Linked DNA regions of Homo sapiens: region 2 is linked to region 1. Evidence: fine-mapped expression QTL. A gene starts in region 1. The other region holds a variant in brackets. All regions are shown on one strand. Distances are from middle to middle. Region 1 holds the start of PAQR4 (progestin and adipoQ receptor family member 4). Region 2 overlaps GREP1 (glycine rich extracellular protein 1).

What was found. PIP is the estimated chance that this variant, and not a neighbour inherited with it, causes the effect.
Region 2: its variant is the best candidate, but not a certain one, in a credible set for the expression of PAQR4 in cerebral cortex (GTEx, PIP 0.67).

What each region holds. Positions count from the first base shown.
Region 1 is chr16:2,965,933-2,974,240 of GRCh38, forward strand. It overlaps PAQR4 (progestin and adipoQ receptor family member 4), which reads left to right and starts at 3,416. Exons shown (of 3, transcript NM_152341.5): 1 at 3,416-3,908; 2 at 5,225-5,446; 3 at 5,583-7,552. The coding sequence starts at 3,743. The coding sequence ends at 6,016. KREMEN2 (kringle containing transmembrane protein 2) reads left to right here. Exons shown (of 9, transcript NM_172229.3): 3 at 208-299; 4 at 393-517; 5 at 710-863; 6 at 978-1,310; 7 at 1,388-1,513; 8 at 1,594-1,672; 9 at 1,878-2,448. The coding sequence ends at 2,088. It overlaps PKMYT1 (protein kinase, membrane associated tyrosine/threonine 1), which reads right to left. Exons shown (of 9, transcript NM_004203.5): 7 at 8,068-8,225; 8 at 7,206-7,283; 9 at 6,876-7,132. The coding sequence ends at 7,021. RefSeq lists enhancers at 1-119, 2,398-3,387, 2,841-2,920, 5,670-6,486 and silencers at 3,181-3,600, 3,631-3,800, 3,811-3,860, 3,891-4,010, 4,281-4,420.
Region 2 is chr16:2,993,374-3,001,681 of GRCh38, forward strand. GREP1 (glycine rich extracellular protein 1) reads left to right here. Exons shown (of 29, transcript NM_001396456.1): 12 at 1,325-1,354; 13 at 1,433-1,465; 14 at 1,554-1,589; 15 at 1,911-1,943; 16 at 2,246-2,281; 17 at 2,366-2,398; 18 at 3,123-3,158; 19 at 3,300-3,332; 20 at 3,680-3,712; 21 at 4,430-4,462; 22 at 4,983-5,015; 23 at 5,121-5,150; 24 at 5,475-5,606; 25 at 6,529-6,570; 4 more. The coding sequence ends at 8,213. Among named protein-coding and RNA genes, the nearest start is that of GREP1, 9.3 kb to the left of the region's middle. RefSeq lists enhancers at 347-848, 2,168-3,140, 4,808-5,308, 5,309-5,809, 8,107-8,308. The variant C/T (reference allele first, on the strand shown) is at 4,818.

The DNA of each region.
Region 1 (8,308 bases):
GCTGTCCACTCGGAAGTCGACGTCCAGTTCCTTCATCAGGCAGAGTTCTGCGTAGACAAAACTGGAATTTGTGGGTGTACAGCAGGCAGCACAGCCGCTCACAGGCACAGAGCCTTGAAGGCCACTTTGAGCATAGGCTGCGGGGCCGGGCCTGGGTTTGCTATTCTTGGGGTGGTGGGAGCCCCACCACCTCCCTCCCACCCGCAGTAACCCAGACGGTGACGTGCAGCCGTGGTGCTACGTGGCTGAGACAGAGGAGGGCATCTACTGGCGCTACTGCGACATCCCCTCCTGTCACAGTGAGTAGCGCGGCTGGACAGAGGTGGGAACGCTGCTGCATCTGGGAGGAGGGTTGTTTTCGGAGTCACGGAAGTCTGACTCTGCCCCCTCAGTGCCAGGCTACCTGGGATGCTTTGTGGACTCAGGGGCACCCCCAGCCCTCAGCGGCCCCAGCGGCACCTCCACGAAGCTCACGGTCCAGGTGTGCCTACGCTTCTGCCGCATGAAGGGGTACCAGGTACTGCTCACGGGCCCAGACCAGTGACCCCTGACCTGGACCTAAAGACCACACTCAACTCCCAACACTCGGTTGCCAAACCCAGACACCGGTTTCTGAACCTCCAGCCCGATTCCCACCCCGACCCCAGGCCCCCACCACTTCACCCCTACCCCAGCCCCTGCCCTGGGGTCACCCAGTCTGTGCTCCCAGCTGGCGGGCGTGGAGGCCGGTTACGCCTGCTTCTGTGGCTCTGAAAGCGACCTGGCCCGGGGACGCCTGGCCCCCGCCACCGACTGTGACCAGATCTGTTTCGGCCACCCTGGACAGCTGTGTGGCGGCGATGGGCGGCTGGGCGTCTATGAAGGTGAGGAGTGGGCGGGGACCAGGGGCCTGGGCGGGCCTCGAGGTGGGGCCTGGCCGGGCAGGGGAGCCGCCGTGTCCTGGTCCTCAGGATGCTGACTGCCGGCCCCGCCCGCAGTGTCGGTGGGCTCCTGCCAGGGGAACTGGACAGCGCCTCAGGGCGTCATCTACTCCCCGGACTTCCCGGACGAGTACGGGCCGGACCGGAACTGCAGCTGGGCCCTGGGCCCGCCAGGCGCCGCGCTGGAGCTCACCTTCCGCCTCTTCGAGCTGGCCGACCCGCGCGACCGGCTGGAGCTGCGCGACGCGGCTTCGGGCAGCCTGCTCCGCGCCTTCGATGGCGCCCGCCCACCGCCGTCCGGGCCGCTGCGCCTGGGCACTGCCGCGCTGCTGCTCACCTTCCGAAGCGACGCGCGCGGCCACGCGCAAGGCTTCGCGCTCACCTACCGCGGTGAGCCTCAGCTCGGCGCGCCCTGCCCGCTGTTCCCACCCCGCTCTCCCCACCCCGCCTCACGCCCCTCTCCGCAGGGCTGCAGGACGCCGCTGAGGACCCAGAGGCCCCCGAGGGCTCGGCCCAGACCCCCGCGGCGCCCCTCGACGGGGCCAACGTGAGCTGCAGCCCCAGGCCTGGGGCTCCGCCGGCCGCGATTGGGGGTGAGGCGGGCGCGCGGGACGGGAGTGAGTCAGGGAGCCGCCCCCTCGCGCCCATCCTCACCGCAGCCGTGTGCCCGCAGCCCGGGTCTTCTCGACGGTGACGGCTGTCTCGGTGCTGCTGCTGCTGCTCCTGGGGCTGCTGCGTCCGCTGCGCCGACGGTGCGGGGCGCTGGGGCAGGGCCTGAGGGCGGACCGGTGGTGGGGAGCTGGAGCCCCAGAAGGGAACAGAGCTAGGAAGGAACTCCTGGGTTCTTAAGGGAGCGAGGCTTTGGGTCCACGCACAGGATCGCGCGCGGGATCGCAGGTAGAGCAGGACGCTGCAGCGGGATTGGACCGGCTCGGCTGATGTCTGCTCCCTCTCTAGGAGCTGTCTGCTGGCTCCGGGAAAAGGGCCCCCGGCGCTGGGGGCTTCCAGGGGCCCCAGGAGAAGCTGGGCTGTGTGGTACCAACAGCCCCGAGGGGTGGCCTTGCCCTGCTCCCCCGGGGACCCCCAGGCTGAGGGTTCTGCCGCGGGCTACCGGCCTCTGAGTGCCTCCAGCCAGAGCTCCCTGCGCTCGCTCATCTCCGCTCTCTGACTCTGGGCCCCGAGGGTCCGCTGGGCCCGCCGCCGGCGAGATGGACACCTGAGATGCTGTGCTGCGCCCTGCCTCGGCCTTGCGCCTGTGTAGGGGCAGCTCGGCCTCTGGTCGCCTTGGGGAGACCAAAAGTCGGACAGGAAACATCTGGTGCTATTATCTGGGACTTGGCCTGACCGTGGGGGTCCAGATGGTCCAGGCCCTCTCCATGGACCTGTATGTGGGGGTGGTCTCTGGTTTCGGAGGTCTTTGAACCCCTCTGGGGGTGGTCCTGGACTGCCGTCCTCAGTGAGAGGTCACAGGTCAGCAAAAACAGTCAAAAAACCCCCACAGATTTTGAATAAAGGATCTACTTTGGTACGGGCCTCGAAAGTTCTTCCGTGGTGGGAGGAGCATGTTAATGACCATACAAACGCCGAGGGTTGCGTGTGTCCATGCAAATGAAGGGCGTTGCACGCAGACTTTGGTGGAGCTGCCTGGAATGCAGAGAAGGACCTAGAACACAGACAGATGGGTGGGTGGGTGGAGTCCTGTAGAAGGCGGGGGGTGGAAGGGGAGGAGGATCGTGGGCAGCGTTATGCTGAATAAGGGGTGCCTTCCCGGTCCCTGCTCAGGGTGGACGGGGCGGAGGTCGACTTTGCTCCCCTGGCCTCCAATCTGTTTCCTGTCTATCCTCGGTAGGGCCCCGCAAGGGTGCTCCTTGTGGGCGATAACTGGGAGCAAGTTGGGCCGGGCCCACGCTCCGAGAAGCCTAGCGCGAAGGATAGGGCCTCTCCCGACGGCTGCGGGCGCGTGAGGCACGCCTTCAGAGGCCTGGGTACCGTGGAGCGCCTTGCTGCACTCGGGAGTCCAGCCTGCGGAAAGATCACTTTGGAGCGGGGGCGTACCGGATGTAGGCCGGACCCGTCCGGCAGCACCTTGGACAGAGCCCCGTCTGCAGGGTAGGGCTAGGTGGCAGGACTATGCCCCCGAGGGTGGGTGCCCAAAGGTACGGAGACCTGGGTGTCACGCGGAAAGCCCGGATGCACAGTTCTGAGGGACGCGAGGTGCCAGGGTCACTCTAGCGCAGCCCGCAGGACCCAGAACGTTGGGTCGCAAGCCCACAGCCACCCCATGCAAATGAGGCTGGGAGCGCGCACACTATGCTAGGAGGCGAGGCCTGGGCGGCCTCGGGGCGGAGCCTCCCCGCCGGCCACGCCCATTGGCTCTCGCTGCGCCGACGTCAGGAGCCCGGCGCGCGAAACGCTGGCCGGCCGGCGGGAACTAGGAGCCTGGGCGGAGCCTGGCGTCCCCTCCCGCGTCCGGCCGCGCCCGTCCTCCTGGCTGCAGAGAGACTACCGGCCACCGCCGCCGCCGCCGCCGCGAGCTGTCCCTGCGGCGCGTCTGCCTTGGCGGAGCCGACCGCAGTGCGCTCAGGCGTCCGGTGCGTCCCCAGCCTCCGCCCCGGCGCGGGGGCGACGGACTCGCGCGTGCGCAGCGCCGGAGGGGCGCGGGCTGGGACCCCCTAGCCAGCGCGTGCGCCGATCGAGCGCAGGGCGATGGGTGGGCGCCGGGCGCCGGGCGCCAGGCAGTGATGGGCCTTCCCGCGCTGCGGCCCCACTGAGGAGGAGGCTCGGGGACAGCAGGAGCACGGGCTGCCCGCGCGGTGCGGACCATGGCGTTCCTGGCCGGGCCGCGCCTGCTGGACTGGGCCAGCTCGCCGCCGCACCTGCAGTTCAATAAGTTCGTGCTGACCGGGTACCGGCCCGCCAGCAGCGGCTCGGGCTGCCTGCGCAGCCTCTTCTACCTGCACAACGAACTGGGCAACATCTACACGCACGGTGAGCCGCGTCCCGCAACGCGCTTCCCACACCCCCGGCCGCCCTACCTGCGTTGGGCCGGGGGCACTGAGGCCGAGGAGGGCCCCAGCGCCCAAGTCCAGGGCTGCCCCGGCCCTGGCACCGCCAGTAGCCGCGGTGACAAAGCTGCCATTGTCCCGGGCCGCGCTGCCAGCTTCCGTTTTCCCGGCGGGTGGGGGCCGGGTCAGGAGAGGGGAGCAGAGTAGGGTCTGAGCCTGCTTAATCCCTCTGAGCCCCAGGGGTAGGGAGCATGGTGTCCGGCCTCTGTAATCCCAGCGCCCTGGGAACCCCCTCCCGCCAGCACCCAGCCGGGAGATGGTGTTGACTGCGATGAGGAGGGCCCGGGAGGAGCCTCCCAGCGCCGCCGTCCTGACGCCCCCGCCCCAAGCCGCTCTGTCTTGGGGCTCCGCCTGGTGGCGGCTCCTTCTTCCCCCAACAGGCGTCCGGCCCCTCCTCCGCGCCCCGCGGAGCTCTGCTGACACAGCCCTGCCCGTCCTTGAGCTGCCCCAGGCGGGCAAGGGGCCCTGAGCGGCCTGGCCCAGCCTGGGTGCCTTTCCCGAGCTTTTGCCAGGCCACATTCTCACAAGGGTGGGCAGCCTTCGGAGCCCCGTTTGGCCCCTGGGAGGCCAGTACTAGAGGCCGGCAGGGAGGGGTGGAGACCTCCCAGAAAGGGCTAGGCTGGAATCAAACTCCCCAGGGAGAGGTCTGGGGAGATGGGACAAGCCCCTCGAAGCCCCCTTCCCTTCATTCTGGACTTGTCTTCCCCCACCTGGCCTCACCCCTTTATAGAAGATAAAAAGGCCCAGTGCCTCCATTTGTCTGGACACTTATGGAGAGGGGAGGACTTGGGTTGGGAAGAGCAAGCCAAGTGGCCCCGGGCTGGCATCACTGCTCATGTGTCCTCTTCACAACTCAACTTGAGGTTTCGCTGCCTTAGCCTTCTCCTGTGACCTGCTTGTATGGGGAGAGCAGTGTGGGAGTGGGACGGCCTAGGCCTGTCCTCTGCCATTGCTTACCTGCTGGGCTCACCCGGGGCCGGTCACTCAGCCCCTCCAAGTCTGTTTCCTCACCTGCAAAGTGGGGATCATGGTCTCTACTTCCCAGACCATCCTGAGCCATGATAAGTAACCAGTGCCAAAAGCCTTTTGCCCAGGGCCTGTCTCTGGCCAAGGCCAGGCCGCCAACTGGATGACAGCATTACCTGGACCTGTCTTGCCCTGTCCTGTGTTGTGTCTGAACCGTGGTCCCCTTGAGGATGTGACTGAAACTATCTGGTAGATGACTGTCTCCCTCCCTAGGGCTGGCCCTGCTGGGCTTCCTGGTGCTGGTGCCAATGACCATGCCCTGGGGTCAGCTGGGCAAGGATGGCTGGCTGGGAGGCACACATTGCGTGGCCTGCCTTGCACCCCCTGCAGGCTCCGTGCTCTATCACCTCTTTATGTGCCACCAAGGGGGCAGCGCTGTGTACGCCCGGCTCCTCGCCCTGGACATGTGTGGGGTCTGCCTTGTCAACACCCTTGGTGAGTCAGGGCCCAAGGGATGGGAGCTGGAGCCACCGGCGGGAGAGGCATGGGGCACGCATACAAGCCATGGGTAGGGAAGGGCGGGTGGACCCTCACAATGACATGCCCTCTCCTGTTCTCTCCTCTTGTGCAGGGGCCCTGCCCATCATCCACTGCACCCTGGCCTGCAGGCCCTGGCTGCGCCCGGCTGCCCTGGTGGGCTACACTGTGTTGTCGGGTGTGGCCGGCTGGCGTGCTCTCACCGCCCCCTCCACCAGTGCTCGGCTCCGGGCATTTGGATGGCAGGCTGCTGCCCGCCTACTGGTATTTGGGGCCCGGGGAGTGGGTCTGGGTTCAGGGGCTCCAGGCTCCCTGCCCTGCTACCTGCGCATGGACGCACTGGCGCTGCTTGGGGGACTGGTAAATGTAGCCCGTCTGCCCGAGCGCTGGGGACCTGGCCGCTTTGACTACTGGGGCAACTCCCACCAGATCATGCACCTGCTGAGCGTGGGCTCCATCCTGCAGCTGCACGCCGGCGTCGTGCCCGACCTGCTCTGGGCTGCCCACCACGCCTGTCCCCGGGACTGAGCTGCCATGCCAGCCTGCCCACAGCAGCCTCCTAGAGTTAGCAACACCAGGTGTTCCTCCCAACTCGTCTGCAAGGGGCTGGCTCCTTGGATGCTTCCAGCTCATGAGATGTCTCAGCAGGAGCCCTGTTCACCCGTTCTTCCCTGTGGACTGACCTCTTCCACCCACGCCGTGGCGCTCCAACTTCCTTCCCTGCCTTTTCCCTCCAAGCTCCTATTTTACTGTGTCAGCTGGAAGGAAACCTTTCCCTCTTGGGACCTCTTTACCCTCTGTGACCTGTGGGGTTAGACCAGAGAGGGACTCTGGGGTCACGTCTTGCTCTGAGAGTTCAAGTCCTGCCAGGCCGCCAGCCCAGAGCCTCCTCACCCTATCCTGTTCCTCCCACCAGGCCTGTGGCCAGTCTTCCTGATCTCCATCTTTCTGCCCTGCATACCAGCCCTCCCAGCAGCCACAAGCTTGCCCGCCCTGGCTCCCTCTGCCCAGAGACTATGGAGTAAGGCATTCAGGACAAAAGGACCAAGGGGGCGTGGACCCGTCTTGTACCAGCTGGCCACAGGCACAAGGGCTGCAGCTGCTTCTTCCAGGAAACTGACACAGGGAGCTCAGCGGCCTCAGATCCTGGGACCCCTGGGCCGTGCCTGCCCTCCACCTTGAGTGCCATACTCCCAACAGCTCCAGGTACCCACCGGGGGATGTGCCTGCTCAGGAAACCTCTTTGCTCCACACAGCATGGGGCTTCAGCTGCTGGCCCAAGGCCAGGAGCGCTGGGTTCTGCAGCAGGGCTCAGCCTCAGGGGCGTTAAGACCCTGGATGACATCAATAAAGGGACAGGAAGGGCCATGTTGCCACATGAGCAAGCTTGGGTGCTCCCAAGGTTCAAATACTTTTTATTAGACACGGCCAGGCAGAGAAGACCATGGGAGTTCCCGAGGGGCCCCAGCTTTCAAGGGCGACGGGAGAGACACAGGATAAAAGGTTAAAAGTGCAGAGGCAGAGTCTGGGGCTCAGGTTGGGTCTAGGGTGTCCTCAAACAGGCTGAGGAGGTTCCGAGGCTCAAAGGAGGGGAAGGAGCCCCGAGGAGGCTCTGAGTTGATGTCACTTAGGTCCAGGGCATCCCTGGGAGGAGAGAGTAGTGACACTCAGGATCCAAAAGCTAGCCCTGCCCACCCCAGCCCCTGGACCTGCTTACCTGGGTGTGCACCTGCTCCGGGGGGTGGAGGTGCTCCCCACAGTCCGGGCCAGGACAGCCTCAGGGGAGAGTGAAGGCCTGCAGGAGGGCAGGCGAGACAAGGAGGGTGTCCAGGGCTAGGGAGTGCCGGATGAAACCAGCTCTGTCCCTGTGCAGGCTCCAGGCTCCCGCCTGACAAACAGGCAGGGAGCCACAGTCAGGGACAATAAAAACTTGGTGCACTCTGAAAGCAGCACTTGGACAGCCTTCAAAGTCCTTCCATCTGGCTGCACTCCAAGGCCCCCTCTGTCCTTTTCAGAACACATGGACTTGGAGGCAGATTTGAAATAAACTTTTAGTAAATGTAAGCCTTTCTGGAACTTCTTGTCTGCTATCAAGTGCCCCGAGGGATGAGGTGATGTGTTTGTAAGGAAGGGGCTAACGGCAGAGTCCCCAAGAGCTGTCTGCCCTGAGCGTGTGGTTTCCTAATTACAGCCTCTCACTCAAGACACCAGGCCCCAGGGACCAAGGACTTGTTCCCAGGGCAGGGCTCCCCAGACTCCAGAGGCTTTCTCTTCCCAGAGAAGGGACAATGTTTTATCCCTGGGCACTGGCAGCCTCCACTGGGGTCGGGGCTGCGCGGCCAGCCACTCCCTGGGGTGCTGGTGCCCTAAGTGTGAAGCCATGCCCTGAACGGCCAGTCCACATGCCCAGCTGCATTAAGCCTGGCCAGGCCACACACCCCCAGTCTTGGTCCCCTTCCCCAGGATGTGATGGGGGCCAGGTTTGTGGGAGTGGTCCCCATTCACCACGAATCTCCATGGAGCCCCGGTGATATCCCCCACCTTCCCCCTAGCCCCCCATACCCTGCACTTGAACCCACCCTAGGCTGTCGTCATCCCAGTTGCTGGAGAGGCTGCTGTCCAGGAGCAAACTGCAGGGTGGTGAGCCAGGCGGGGTGGCTGGCGGGCCCAGGGGCTGTAGCCAGCTGGCAGGGTGAGCCAGCCCATGCCAGAGCCAGCAGAGCAGGGCAAGCAGGGCCTGTGGGGGAGAGGAGCTCAGGATGTGGGTGGGCGGACCCCCGGGGCTGGGGAGCAGGGCAGGCAGCCGCCACTGTCGGGAGC
Region 2 (8,308 bases), 27 kb after region 1:
GGCTAACACCTGTAATCCCAACAGTTCGGGAGGCAGAGTTAGGTGGATCAATTGAGCCCAGGAGTTCAAGACCAGCCTGGGCAACATTCCCAAGCTGGTCTTGAAATCTTGGGCTCAAGCAATCCATCTACAAAAAAAAAAAACCTAGCCAGTTGTGGTGGCACGTGCCTGTAGTCCCAGCTACTCTGGAGGCTGAGAGGTGAGGATCACTTGAGCCCAGGAAGTCGAGGTAGTAGTGAGTGGAGATCTTGCCACTGTACTCCAGCCTGGGTGACAGAGAGAGATCCTGTTTAAAAAACAGACAGGCCGGGCTCAGTGGCTCACGCCTGTAATCCCAGCACTTTGGGAGGCTGAGGCGGGTGGATCACAAGGTCAGGAGATCAAGACCATCCCGGCTAACACAGTGAAACGCCGTCTCTACTGAAAATACAAAAAAATCAGTCGGGCGTGGTAGTGGGCACCTGTAATCCCAGCTACTCGGGAGGCTGAGGCAGGAGACTGGCGTGAACCCAGGAGGCGGAGCTTGCAGTGAGCCGATCGTGCCACTGCACTCCAGCCTGGGTGACAAAGCAAGACTCCGTCTCAAAAACAAACAAACAAACAAACAACAACCAAAGTAATCCGTGGACCATGCCTGTTCTGAGCCAACCAGGTGCTGGGGACAGGCCCTCCCCAACCAGGGCCACGCTGGGGCATACAGTATGGGCTGAGGCTGCCCCAGAGCTGGGCTCTGGGAGTTCTTAGGAGGCAGTGGAGGCCAGGGAGGAGAGAGTGGCCCAACCCTCTGAGAAACTGAACCAAAAGGAGAGTTTTGAACAAAGAAGGTACAGGCTCCAGCAAGATCTCAGACCTGGCCAGGCGCAGTGGCTCACGCCTGTAATCCCAGCACTTTGGGAGGCCTAGGCGGGCGGATCACTTGAGGTCAGGAGTTCAAAACCAGCCTGGCCAACATGGTGAAACTCCGTCTCTACTAAAAATGCTAAAAATTAGCCAGGCGTGGTGGCGGGCACCTGTAATCCCAGCTCCTCAGGAGACTGAGGCAGGAGAATTGCTTGAACCCGGGAGGCGGAGGTTGCAGTGAACCAAGATCACGCCATTGCTCTCCAGCCTGGGCAACAAGAGCGAGACTCCATCTCAAGAAAATAAAAAAAAGAGCTCAGACCCAAGATGTGGCAGGAGCTGGAGCTTGACAGTTGGAGGCTGCTGAGGAAAGGAACCTGCCTTTCTGGCTCGTTGAAGTTGGGGGTGGGGACACCCCTGCCCGAGGTGGCTGGAGATGGCATCCAGGGCTCCGGAGGGCCTTAACCCTTTCTCTCCTCCACAGGCCCCACCACTCAAAATGGCTATAGACCAGGTAGGGGCGGGGCTGGGGTTTGGGGAGGCCCAGAGCTGGGGCCCCAGGTTCCTCACCTGCTCCCTGTCTCTCCACCAGGCTATGTGGGGGCCGTCAAACCCCAGAAGCCAGGTGAGCCCTGCCCCGGCCTGTCCCTCTGCCTCCCCAAAACCTGAGCTCCCTCCCCTCATTCATACCCCGCCTTGATCTATTCCCCCAGGATTCCAGTACAGAATTGGGCTGGGAGCCCAGCCAGGTGAAGGGGGTACAGTCTGGGGTTCCAGGGTCTGCATCTGGGCGGCCTCTTCCTCCCAGGGGCGGGATTGGTGAATGATGGAGAGGGGTGACGGGGCGTCTCCAAGATCCTTGGCTTCTGGCTTGGCCCTGAAGGGGAACCATAGGCGCTGTGTCCCCAGCTTAGCTCAGCCCTCCCACCCCGACAAGCCCCCCACCTCAGAATGGCCCTGGAGCAGGTCCTGAGGGGGATGGGAGGAGCTGGGGTCCAGATGCTGGGGTTCTGGGGTGGATCTGAGTTGGGGGCTCCTAGGTACCTCATCTGCTCCCCATTTTCCCAAAGGCTTTAGAGGGGACATGAAGGCACAGGAGCCAGGTAAGCCTGGCTCTCCCGGGCTTCTGTCTCCCCAGTGTTCAGAGCCCCCTTCCCCCTCTCACCCCCACCTCCATCTGTCCCCCAGGATTAGGGAATGGGAATGGGCTGAGTGCTCAGCCAGGTGAGACAGATGGGGTCTGGGGTTCTACCCCTGGGGCGTCCTCTCCCTGCCTCCCTTCCCAGTCTCATGGGGGGCTGAGCTGGTGAATAACTGAAGGGCTGCTGGGAGGAAGCCTCCAGGATTCCCTTACCTCCACCTCAACCAAACCCCAAATCCCCACCCCACCCTCCTCTCCCCATAGTCTTGACAGCCCAGAACCGATTTGGATTTGGAGCAGGTAGGAGCAGGGGTGGGGAGGGGCTGGGGGAGAATGTGGGTGGGGCCCCTGAGTCACTCACCAGCCCCCCTATATCTCCTCCAGGCCTTGGAGGGAATGTGAAGCCTCTGAAGCCAGGTGAGCCCCGCCCGCCCTGGTCTGCCTCTCTATGCACGAACCCCTGAAGCCATAAGCACTCTACTCATGCTCCCTCCCTCTCCAGGATATGGGAAAAGGCTGAGAGCAGGGGCCTTCCCTGGGGCTGGAACCCAGCCAGGTGAGGACACCTGGGGTAGGAGCCCAGGCTTTTTTTTTTTGAGATGGAGTCTTGCTCTGTCGCCCAGGCTGGAGTGCAGTGGCGCAATCTCGGTTCACTGCAACCTCCACCTCCTGGGTTCAAACAATTCTCCTACCTCTGCCTCCCAAGTAGCTGGGATTACAGACACCCACCACCGCACCTGGCTAATTTTTGTATTTTTGGTAGAGACAGGATTTCACCATGTTGCTCAGGCTGGTCTCGAACTCCTGACCTCAGATGATCCACCTGCCTTGGCTTCCCAAAGTGCTGGGATGACAGGCGTGAGCCACCGCACCGGGCTGAGCCCAGGCTTCTTAGAGGGAAGGGGGAAGACAAAGATCGGGCCAGGGGGCCGGGAGGGCAGAGTGTGGGTCTGAATCCTGGGGAATTAAGTGCCACTGGCTGGCCGGATGTGGCTCTGCCTCTGTGTCTCTCTGTAGGCCTGGGAGGGGGAGCCAGGCCCCCTCCCAGGGCCCTGGGCCCCCGCCCTGTCTCTAGGGCTGCGTCCTCCTGACACCCCCTCCGAATGCCGCCGTCTCACACCCTCCCCGTCCCTCCCCCTAGAATATGGCCATGGAAATGGACCGGGAGTCCAGCCAGGTGAGGGCAGCTGGGCCTGGCTCGCGAGGGGTCGGGAGGTGGGACGGGAAGAGAGAAGCTGAGGCCACAGGGACAGAGAGCTGGGGTCTGGGGATCAGCAGCACTGGCTGGAGTTGATGTCAGCCTCTCTGTCTCTCCCAGGCCTAGGAGCGGGGATGAAGCCTCAGATGCCAGGTGAGGGGACTGCCTGTGTCTGTGGCCCCACCTCCCCTAGATCCTGGTGTTCTAGCTGGGTCTGCGTGGGACTCCCAGGGGAGGGGTGACCCCTGCCTCATGAGTGAGGGGAGGTCTGTAGGAGCACCGAGGACCGAGGGGAGAGGAGGTTGGGGAGAGACTGAGAGCCCCCTTCCTGGCCCCTGCCTCCCTGTCCCCCAGTGGCTCAGCCTTACCACGTTCCCTTTTTTGCCCCACAGGCCTGGGAGCTCCAAACGGCTATGGACCAGGAAGGGGCAGGGCTGGGGTTCCAGGAGGTCCAGAGCGGAGGCCTTGGGTCCCTCACTTGCTCCCTTTCTCTTCACCAGGCTATTTGGGGGTTATGAAGGCCCAGAAGCCAGGTGAGCCCTGCCCCGCCTGTCCCTCTGCCTCCCCCAAACCCTGAGCTCCCTCCCTCATTCATACCCCACCTCAGCTCCATCGGCATTCAGGAGGGGGCTGGGAGCCGAGCCAGTGAGGGGGTGTCGGGCTGATGTCCCTGTCTCCCTCCCAGGCCTCCAGAGCAGGTGGACACCAAAATGAGGGAGGAGAGGTGGCGCCAGGATCCCTGGTTTCTGACTTGGCTCTGAAAGGGGATCCAAAGGCCCTTCGCCCTCTCCTTAGCTAGAATCCCAAACCCCCTGCTCACCCCTCCCTCCCCACAGGCCCCTTAGCCCAGAATGGCTACAGAGCAGGTACTGGGGGGCTGGAGTTGCTGGGAGTGCAGAAAGGAGGAAAGAGGTGGGGGCCTGGCTCTCCCCTGACCCTGTACTGAGGGTTTTCTTGGGGGCTCCTGCAGCCTTAGACGGGGTAGAGTCTGGAGAGGAGGCGGCACAAGGGGGAGGGAGGTGCTGGGAGCTCCAGTTCCTAAATTGGGAGGAAAGGGGGGCCAGGCTCCAGCCCCCTTCTGTACCCCAACCTCTCCCCATGCCGCCCCCACAGACCCTGCAGTTCCCACTGGTCATGGACCAGGAAGGGGAGGTTGGCATGGGCACCAGGTGGGGGACAGATGCCAGGTCTGGAAGAGACCCCTCAGTGAGGAGTGGGCATGGGTCCCTCACCTACTCGCATCTCTCCAGGTGCTGGAGAGGGCATGAAACCTCAGAAGCCAGGTAAGCCCTTCCCACTCCTCACTCTCCCTACCTGCAGAAACTGCCTACCCCTCCACCCTTTTCCCCTCCCAAGCTGTACCCTGTCTCCCCATGGTGCAAGAACGGGCTGGAGCTGGAGCCTTCCTGTGGGAAGGAGCCCAGCCAGGTGAGGGAGGTGGGTGGGACCTGGAGCAGAGGGGAAGGAGGACAGGCTCCAACGGACAGAGTTGGGTCTCAGTGGGGGAAGGGGTGGGGTGGGGTGGGCCTGTCCATTATTCTCCATGGGTCTCTGGCCTGGGAGAGAGCCAGAAACCTCCAAAGCCGAGTTGCTCTCTGCCCCTCTTCCTGCCTTCTCCAAGGTCCCCCACTCCAACCC[C/T]GCCCTCATGCCCTGCTCTCCCTCCCAGGATACACACCAGGGACCTGGCTGGGGCTCCTGCCAGGTGAAAAGACGGGGCTAGGGGGATCAGCAGGGGAGAGAGGGGTTCACTACACTCCTCGGGTGGGCTGATGTCTGAACTGGCCTCTTTCTGTCTCTCCCCAGGCCTGCGAGGGACCTTGAAGCCTCAGAAGTCAGGTGAGTGGGGGACCCCTGGCTCTGCCCCACACCTCCTTCTGCCTCTCAGCCCTTCTAGCCTCTGCCCCCAGTGTTGCCACACTCATCTCTGCTTTCCCTCTCCAGGACACGGCCATGAAAATGGGCCCTGGCCAGGTGAGGCCACTGGGACCAGGGGTGGGGGCCCAGGAGGAAGGGAGAGGGAGGCTGCTGGAAGACGGAGGGGCCTCCATCAGGAGCCCCATCCCTGCCAGATCCCTACATCCCTCTATCCCCTGCCTGGATCCCCAGGTCCCCCCAGGAGAGTGTGGACCAAGGGAGCTGGGCTTTTTCCAGCCTGGCTAATGTCCCCCTAAGGTGCTGGGTCTGCCCTAGAAGCCACTACAGGCCGGTGGCTTGGCCAGGCCAAGGCCTCCTGGGTGGCGTCGGTGAGGACTGGCCTGGAGCATAGCCCCACCCCTCCCTTCCTTCCCATCGTAGGTCCCTGCAATGCGAGGGTCGCTCCGATGCTCCTCCCCAGGCTTCCCACTCCAGGGGTCCCTTCGGACAAAGAGGGTGGCTGGGGCCTGAAATCCCAGCCCCCTTCCGCAGTGCAGAATGGCAAGTTACCAGGTCAGTGTGGAGTGGGGGTGCCTAGGGGGCACTGGGAAGCACCTGGCCCTATGAGGGTCAGGGCCTGGCTGCCATATCCCACTCTGTCCTCGGATGCCAAGGCTCAGAGAGGGCAGTGACTTGTCACACAGTGATCTGCTGAGGAGAAGCCTGAACTCTGGCCCTGGGACCCCATGTGGTCCCCAGTATGGGAGTCCTTTCCATCCCTGCCCCATGGCATCTGCAGTCTCTCAAGCCCTCGGCTGGGCTCACTCCTGCCCCTAACCTTCCTCCTAGCACCAATGCCAGCCATCCAGTGGGGACTGAAACCTCAGAAAGCAGGTGTGAGTCTGTCTGCCCCCAGGCCCCACATCCCAGAGGGACAAACTCTCAGCTAGGTCTATCCTCTGTCTCCACCCCAGATCAGGGTCACCCCTCCATCACCCTTTTTCCCTAGGCTGCCTAAGCTATTCAGGCACCCGAAGGCCAGGAAGTCCCTCCCCGAGTCTACCCTCTTGCTCTTTTTTTTTTTTTTTTTTTTTTTTTGAGACAGTCTCGCTCTGTCGCCCAGGCTGGAATGCAGTGGTGCAATTTTGGCTCACTGCAAAATACGCCTCCCAAGTAGTTGGCATTACAGGCACGCACCACCATACCTGGCTAATCTTTGTATTTTTGTAGAGTCGGGGTTTTGTCACATTGGACAGGCTGGTCTCAAACTCCTGGCTTCAAGTGATCAGCCCACCTCAGCCTCCCAAAGTGCTGGGATTACAGGCGTGAGCCACTGCGCCCAGTCTCTTGCTGCTCTCCAGATTTCTTCTGGTTCCATTCCCTGTGGACAGGAAAAGTCTCTGCTTCCCCTTCAGAGTCCCTAAGGTCGATCTTTGGCCTCCAAGGAGTCAGGGGAGACCTGGGTCCCCCGCACTGACTTCCTTTCTCCTCACAGGGCACCAGCCTCCAAATGGCTATGGACCGGGAGCAGAACCAGGTGAGGAGGCCCTTCCTGGAGTTCCTCCCCTCCCTTCCCTTCCTCTTCCCTCCTCTTCCTTCTGCCATCCCAGGAAGAGGGGAGGCCAGGGCTGTGGCTCTCGCTGACCCCCATCTCTGAGTCACAGTTTTCTCTCCCCCAGGTTTTAATGGTGGCCTCGAGCCACAGAAAATTGGTGAGTCCTCCTGGGCCCCCGACCCATGTTGAGCGGAAGCTGGCATCTCCCTCATGCCTGAGTCAGTCTGTCTGTCCGCATCCCCCTGTCTATGAGCTGGTCACCTGGCCCTCCTGATGCTGTCCCTGTTCCACTAGCCTGTCCCTAGCTCCTCTCCAATCTCTGTCCTGCAGGTTTAGGTTATGGGAATGGTGTCCTGGGAGCCAGGGTCTTCCCCGAGGCCCACCCACAGCCAGGTGCCTGGGGAGCAGGGGTCGGGGTGGGAGAGTTGGGCTCAGGGCCCCAGCCCAGCCTCTGACACCCTCTTTCCTCCTCCAGGGTTCCATGGGGCCAATGGTTTTAGGAATAGTGAGTCAGACCCAGGGGACAAAGTGCAGTGGAGTGGGGGAGACAACAGCCCAGGGGCTAGGCGGGAATGACCAGAGTCTCTTGGAGGGGATGGGGTGGAAGCTCTGGTGTACCCCAAAGCAGCAGCTCTAGCCCCTGAAGGAAATGGTAAGAAATGAGCCTTCTGGGAGCAGAGCCAAGCCCAACAGGGGCCAGGGGTCCCAGCTCCTGTGGGCAAGGGTACCCCTGCCAGCTCTCCTCCCCACAGGGCAGGCCGGGGTGCTGTGGAACTCTCGCTGGCCCACCCTCCAGGCCTGGGGGGCCGGCTTGAAGCCTGGATATCAGGCTGGAGATGAATATGCTGAGGCCAGGAGCCAGCCAGGTAACGGGATGCCTGGATGAGTGTGTTGGGGCCATTAGAGGTGGCTTCAGGGAACTGGGCCCTGGGCCCAGGTCTACCCACAGCCCCACAGAGATAGAAGGTACAGCCCTCTTGGCGGAGGGGATGGAGTGAGTGAGAAGAGGCCAGGAGGGCATAGGCAGGAAGGAGCAGGAAGGAATGGAGCTGGAGGAGAGGCCAGAAGAGCCCGGGACCCTGAGAGCCAGCCCAGACACTGGACCAAGAAGGGGAGGTGATGGAGTTGGGAACGAGGGCCATCACGGACTCAGTTCTCCATACTCTGTCCCTCTCCCCCCGGTCCTCTGAGAAACTGAGGCAGAGCTGAGCCCTGGGCCCTCCGGGGAGGGGGTGTCTCCCACAGCCTGGGTTGAAGCTGGGGTGGACGGAAGCTCTCTGGTGACCCGAGTGCTCCTGGTCTGTCTGTCTGTGCCACAGGGGGCCCCGACGTGAAGAGAGGCAGCAATGGCCAGCTGGGGAATGGCTACGGAGGTGAGAGGGAGGCGCAATGGCCGAGCCGCCTGCCCAAAGGCCCCCCGTGGTCACCCCTCCAGCCATACTGGGGGACACCCAGCCCTTGGGAAGGATAGCAGGTTCTGCCACCTGTAGGTGGCTGCTGAGTGACTGACCCCAGAAGCTCAGGTCCCTGGGAGGGGAGGAGGGGGCAAGGCCTCACCAGGGCCCCGCCCCTCCCTAGCCCAGCTCTATGTCTTCCCAGGCCGCTGCCCTCTGGGGAAATGCTGAGCACTGCAATGCCCCTCGCCTGCCCAGCAAGGAAGACAGACCCTTGGGCTTGGCCTCTGGTGCTGCCTGGCCGGGGGTCTCCTCCATGCTAGAAC